Linked DNA regions of Homo sapiens. The protein of the gene in region 1 purifies or fractionates together with the protein of each later gene. This does not show direct contact. Each region holds a gene or a part of one and is shown on either strand. Other genes may lie near its edges.

Region 1 (3,654 bases):
AGATTTTGAAAGTAAGATTAAGGAAGAAATGTGAGGACAGTCTGATTCACAATGCAGTAAATAAAAATGTAAAACATATGCTTTTTAAATAAGAGAAAATCCTAGCTTCAGTTTCTTTCTTTCTTTTTTTTTTTGAGACAGAGTCTCACTCTGTTGCCCAAGCTGGAGTGGAGTGATTGGAGTGATGCGGTCTCGGCTCACTGCAACGTCCGCCTCTCAGGTTCAAGCAATTCTCCTGTCTCAGTCTCCTGAGAAGCTGCGATTACAGGCGCCTGCCACCACGCTCGGCTATTTTTTCGTATTTTTAGTAGAGATGGGGTTTCACCATGTTGGCCAGCCTGGTCTCAAACTCCTGACCTCGTGGTCCGTCCGCCTCAGCCTCCCAAAATGCTGGGATTACAGGCGGACGCACTGCCACCAGCCAAGCTTCAGTTTTTAAGATAGAAAAATACATTTCACATGTTCCTTCAATTTTTACTCACCCATGTTTGCCAGAAGGCAGATGGCAGCTTGTACATCCACTCCCGCATATACATCTGCTAGTGAACTTACCACTGGCAAACAAAGTGTATGTACTCTAATTCTCCGCTCACCTAAAAAAAAAGTCATTGAAAATACATTAGATCAAAAAGGAAATAAAGCAAAGCAAACATGTCAAATACTTTTTTTCTTTCTTTCTTTCTTTTTTTTTTTTTTGAGACGGAGTCTTGCTCTGTCTCTTAGGCTGGAGTGCAATGGTGTGATCACAGCTCACTGCAACTTCTGTCTCCTAGGTTCAAGTGATTCTCCTGCCTCAGCCTCCCAAGTAGCTGGGATTACAGGTGCCTGCCACCATACCCAGCTAATTTTTGTATTTTTAGTAGAGATGGGGTTTCACCAGGTTGGCCAGGCTGGTCTGGAACTCCTGACCTCAGGTGATCCACCCACCTCGGCCTCCCAAAGTGCTGGGATTACAGGCGTGAGCCACCGCCACATCCAGCCACAAGTCGAATTTTTATTCAAGTTATTGTTTTGGCTAGATTACATCACCAACAGGATTTTGAGATGTAAAAACCAAGTTTTACAATGAACATTTTTAAAAGAAAATTAAACACTCTCCAAATCTGCAGAGTATGAACATACGCTATATCACTCATTCTAAATTATATCCTATAGAGTAAAATACCAGAAAACTTAACTGTCAAGTAACAAATGAAGGCCTTAATTGCTAAGCAGTTTTTTACTTTTTGGGGCAAGAAATAATACAAAGAATGGCATAGCTGGATTTAGCATGAACTGTTTTGAAACAAGATTCTAAGAATACAAGTCTTCCATAAATTAAAAAAGTGTGCTATTTAAAGATGCAAAAGTGAGAGTTAAAAAAAGAAAGAAAATAACAACATATGTTTGATTAACTAATACAAATTCCATTACTTCCCACTGTGTATTCATTCTTTTTCCCCACTCCACTAAAGGCCATGTGAAAGGAGGGAGGAATTACTGCTGCAGACTATATTTCATTTCTGTTAACATTACCTTTGCTTGATGTATATAATAGGGCTGTTTGAAAACATACTAAGGAAGTATCTGTTAAACTTTCTTCAATTGACAACTGCACCGCAAATCCAGCATCAGGATTGATGTTGGCAAGGGATAACAAATCAGTAGAACGGACAAAGAAGTTACCGTGAAAAGTGTGCATTGAAAGACCTAAAAAGGAGAAAATCATAAAAAATCAAGTTAACAATAGTATCTTCACCTCAAGCTAAAGTTACTTTTTTAAGTCAAAGATGTTTATGATTTTGAATCAAAAGGATAACTGGGGAGTCAAGGTTCAAGCATAGGCAGAGTTTCTAAAATATTAATTCAAAAAAACTAGTGGACGTTATATAAAAGGGAGACTATACATTTCACTTGTATTGACACCTAACCTTATTTACATTTTCTCACATGTGACTTGAAGTCAGACATAATCTGACTAAACATTTAATTTACAAAATTAAGCAAATGAGGGTTATTATATAACTCATCCTAGATTTAAAATAAAGGTAAAATAAAGGATTAAAACAAATATTCACATAAAACCAAGGAAGTGTACATTAAATGATTATGAAGGCAAAGACCCTTACTTTGACAATTCTTATTTAAGATCTTCCCTATTCCTCTAATTCTCCTTCTAAAATCATTTCTAATATAGGCTTTCTCTTAGGTTCTTCTGAGTAAATCAAACATTACTTTTGTCTACTTATTCAAGTTATTTTTAAAAATTGGGCAAGGATTATTCAATAACTATTATCTATTTAAAACATGGTATAGCTAATGAGATCAAACAGTCTTCCATCATGAACAGTCAGAGGTAGTCAATACATGGAATGCTCACTGACTTTGATACAAGTATTTAATATAAAATATAACTTTTACAACTTCATACCTTTAGTACACCTTATTCTCATAACAGCTTCAAACCCAATTTTTCTTGTGAGATACCGTTTTAGGTCTTTTTGTAACTTTTCTGCTTGTGAAGGATTGTGAGTATAGTGGAATGATGGATAATAATAGATGCACCCTGCAGAATACTTGGACATGCAAGCTTTAGAGAGAAATACAAAAAGTATTAGCTATAGAAATAATAATATTTTACTTGTCCAACAGTAGTACAGATTCTACATTATGAAGAAATCTAAGTCATGAGAAAACCTAAGCCATCAAAATAAGAACATACAAATCTGAGAAAACAGTAATATCTATAAAATATATGATAAAGTTTACTGTTGAGCAGAATGGTAAGGGAATCATGCTATCTAAACAAAATACAAGTGACATTTTATATTTGTATAGTGCTTTAAACTTTACTGGTAGTTTTCATAGATATTGTCTATCTAATGCACATGCTTTTCTCCCTAAAATATAGAGAATGCTTACTGAAGAGTTTAGATTTAATTATGCATTAAAAATGTTCATTTAAACAAATGTACCCATGATGACTTTCCTTACCTAGAGAAGCAAGATCAGAATACTGTGAACTTAAAAGGAACAAATCCACTGCAGTTTGCTGTCCCGAGCAATCTAATGCAAGTTTCTTATAAAAATCAGTTGCAGGGCCAAGATGTTGTACCACCTAAGTCAACAGATCATATAGTAAGAGCTAGCAATCTTTATGCTCATATTTTCATGTCATTTTTATAACAAAAAGGATATCCTCTGCCTCCCTACCAAACTAAGAGTTTTCTAAATGTCTAGGCATTTGGTGCAGATTCCCTATGATAATAATAATGATAGATAATCTTTATAAAAAACACTTATGTGCCAGCACTGTTTCACACAAATTAATTTTCATAACACATCTCATATGGTTTTTATCATCTACATTTTCAGACGAAGAAACTGAGGCAATAACTGATTAAGTAACTTGACCAAGATTACATAGATATTGAGAAGTGGATATTGGAATATCAACCCAAGAAATCTGGCTGCAGAATGAGTGCTGTTAACCATTATTAAATATTGTTAAATAACTTAAGAGAGTAAAAGATTAAGGAAGGTGTTTCTTTTGGTATGAGAAGACTTGAGCTGAGAAGGTGACACTGGAGAGAGTCTCCAAGTTCTTAATCATCATACAACATTTCCTAAAAAAAAGTTTCAATCCTCTTAATTACACTGTATGATGATTATATT
Region 2 (3,654 bases), about 30 Mb from region 1:
AACAAACTCATTTAATCCTGATACCATTTCTCCTCCAATGCCAAAACCAAAGAAACAATAACAAAATTTTCCTCTTATTATGCTTTTGTGATGAAAGGCTATATAAACAAATACTATAATTCATTTATAAATTAAACTTCAAAGTCTTACCATAATATAGGCTCTGCCCAATATCCTACAATTATTTCATACACTAATGTACTCTGTAATGCCAAAGCCCAGCTTAACTCCCTTCTCCAAAAATTTATGCAAGCACACAATCCAAAGATCTTTTTCTCTCTTGCCCTGTAATCACTATTTTCACACTCACTTCACATAACAAATATTTATTAAACATCTACTATGGTACATCATTTTAACCAATGTGAATAGAGCCATTAACAGACGTCCTTATCTTCATAAACCCTACATTTTAATTGTGGAAAACGTGATAAACATAAAAGTAAATGTATGTCAGAAGCTGATAAATGAGAATAAAGTAAGAAATAAGAAAATAAGGTGAGAAGGACTGACTGCTAGCCAAGGAAGGTCTCTAAATAACATTTAAAGGACACCTGTTTAGCCAGGCATGGTGGCATGTGCCTGTAGTCCCAGCTACCCAGAAGACTAAGGTGGGAGAATCGCTTGAACCCAGGAGACAGAGGTTGCAGTGAGCCGAGATCACACTACTGCACTCCAGCCCTCCAGCCTGGGCAACAGAGTAAGACTCTGTCTCAAAATTTTTTAAATTAGGCCAGGCATAATGGCTCACACCTGTAATTCCAGCATTTTGGGAGGCCGAGGCAGGTGGATCACCTGAGGCCTGGAGTTCAAGACCAGCCTGGCCAACATGGTGAAACCCCGCCTGTACTAAAAATACAAAAATTAGCCAGGTGTGGTAGGAGGCACCTGGAATCCCAGCTACTCAGGAAGCTGAGGCAGGAGAATCACTTGAACCCAGGAGGCAGAGGCTGAAGTAAACTAAAATTGTGCCACTGCATGCTAGGCTGAGTGACAGAGCAAAACCCTGTCTCAAAAAATAATAATAAAAATAAATTTAAAATTAAAAATAAAGGACATCTGAGCAGAAGTCCTAAAACAAATAAGAAAAATGAGTCACACAGGTATCTGGGGGAGAAAATTCTGAACAGTCCTTTGCATATGATCCTTTATACGACATAGCTTTTTATGTCCAAAAATGTTTTTTTTTTTTTTTTGAGACGGAGTCTCGCTCTGTCGCCCAGGCTGGAGTGCAGTGGCGGGATCTCGGCTCACTGCAAGCTCCGCCTCCTGGGTTCACGCCATTCTCCTGCCTCAGCCTCCCAAGTAGCTGGGACTACAGGCGCCCGCCACTACGCCCGGCTAATTTTTTGTATTTTTAGTAGAGACAGGGTTTCACCGTTTTAGCCAGGATGGTCTCGATCTCCTGACCTCGTGATCCGCCCGCCTCGGCCTCCCAAAGTGCTGGGATTACAGGCGTGAGCCACCGCGCCCGGCCCAAAAATGTTTTTATGAAGAAAGAAGATATATTTGAATCAATGCTCTGTCAGAACTTCATTGTCAGAAGCAGAAATATTAAAAGATATAAGACTGCACACTAAGGAGAGGGATCCCTTCAGTTGAGGCCAGCTGGACAGTATCTCTCCAGTCCCCCAATCACACCGAGCACCATGCCCGCCCCTCTGGAAACTGTTCATTAACCAGCGCTCCAATAGTTTGGATGGCAATTCTATTATCATCAAATAACTAGTTTGAGCCCCAATAATGACCCAGGACTGCAAGACTTTGACACATCTAAAAAATGGAACATTAAATTCAGTTCCCTTTTAAGCTTTAGTCTGCTTTTCTGAAAATATAGTGTTGTCCATCTACTACTATTGAAAACTGAACTGTGGTCACTCTGCACAAACAAGTATTTTTAACCCACTCTATTGACGCAAAAGAATTTTTAAAAAATATTTTTTAAAACATTTCAGGTTTCTAACACAATACAGAATTTTAAAAATATATGCTGTCAGTTTAAAACAAAAACATATATTTGTTCATTCATACTGCATCTCACTCCAGAAAGACAAAAATTAAAAAGTAAGCAAACAGGCCAGGCGCAGTAGCATGTACCATAATCTCAGCTACTTGGCAGGCTGAAGCAGGAGGATCACCTGAGCTCAGGACTAGCCTGGGCAACACAGTGAAATCCTGGACACACACACACACACACACACACACACACACACACACACACACTTAAAAAGCAAGCAAAGAATAAATTTACCACATTATTAAAAGATTTTCACTTCTCACTAGATTTTTTTTTTTTTTTTTGAGACGAAGTTTCACTCTTGTCCCCCAGGCTGGAGAGCAATGGCGCGATCTCGGCTCACTGCAACCTCCACCTCCTGGGTTCAAATAATTCTCCCGCCTCAGCCTCCCAAGTAGCTGGGATTACAGGTGCCTGCAACCACGCCCAGCTAAGTTTCGTATTTTTAGTAAAGACGGGGTTTCACCATGTTGGCCAGGCTGGTCTCTAACTCCTGACCTCAGGTGATCCACCCGCCTCAGCCTCCCAAAGTGCTGGGATTACAGGCGTGAGCCACTGTGCCCGGCCCTCACTCGATTTTTACAGAAAAATCATTTTGTAATTTTTATAATAATTATATACACATTATATACACATATATAAAATAGCAAAACTGCATTTTGTTTTCTGGTATACTTTTAAGGGATAATTTATCCGAGTTTAAATTTACGATTACCGGCAGGGTGCGGTGGCTCACGCCTGTAATCCCAGCACTTGGGAGAGGCTGAGGTGGGTGGATCACCCGAGGTAAGCAGTCTGAGACCAGCCTCGCCAACATGGCGAAACCCTGTCTGTACTAAAAATATAAAACTTAGCTGGGTGTGGTGGTGGACACCTGTAATCCCAGCTACTGGGGAGGCTGAGGCAGGAGAATCACTTGAACCTGGGAGGTGGAGGTTGCAGTGAGTCGGAGAGTGCAGTGAGCTGAGATCACGCCACTGTACTCCAGCCTGGACGACAAAAGTGAGACTCCATCTCAAAAAAATAAATAAACTTATGATTAACTACTAAGAGCTGAATGGGATTTCAGAACAGACCAAACTTTGTTTCCATTTTTTGATTTTTTGTTATATTCTAAATATATGAAGTACAAGCAAAAGTATATTAAAACCAATTTCAAAGTTACTGTCCACTCTTAGTTGCAAAACTGGAATTCTGTCACAAAGAAATTAATCAGTTAAACTTTCATGTGCATATGGACACCTACTTGCTAACAATTCCTAATCTAAATTTCATCAGCAACTGAAGCTAAACTAAGTATCATTAACTAGCAGAAACATTAACTTTCCCAAAGAAAATAAATCACATAAAATAATTTACCTATTATACAATGGGCCGGGCGCGGTGGTTCATGCCTGTAATCCTAGCACTTAGGGAGGCCAAGGCGGGCAGATCAGGAGGTCAGGAGATCGAGACCATCCTGGCTAACACGGTGAAACCCCGTCTCTACTAAAAATACAAAAAATTAGCTGGGTGTGGTGGCAGGTGCCTGTAGTCTCAGCTACTCAGGAGGCTGAGGCAGGAGAATGGCGTGAACCCGGGAGGCAGAGCATGCAATGAGCCGAGATTGCACCACTACACTCCAGCCTGGGCAACAG

What was found. The genes of interacting proteins can lie anywhere in the genome.
Region 2: the proteins of SEC24B (region 1) and NAA15 fractionate together in Homo sapiens (co-fractionation; one large-scale study listed by BioGRID). This does not show direct contact.

What each region holds. Positions count from the first base shown.
Region 1 is NC_000004.12:109,524,261-109,527,914, reverse strand, and holds part of SEC24B (protein transport protein Sec24B), read right to left. Parts: intron 3,098-3,654; coding exon 2,974-3,097; intron 2,570-2,973; coding exon 2,411-2,569; intron 1,690-2,410; coding exon 1,516-1,689; intron 594-1,515; coding exon 483-593; intron 1-482. UniProt on the Homo sapiens protein: Component of the coat protein complex II (COPII) which promotes the formation of transport vesicles from the endoplasmic reticulum (ER).
Region 2 is NC_000004.12:139,307,996-139,311,649, reverse strand, and holds part of NAA15 (N-alpha-acetyltransferase 15, NatA auxiliary subunit), read right to left. Parts: intron 1-3,654. UniProt on the Homo sapiens protein: Auxillary subunit of N-terminal acetyltransferase complexes which display alpha (N-terminal) acetyltransferase (NAT) activity. The NAT activity may be important for vascular, hematopoietic and neuronal growth and development.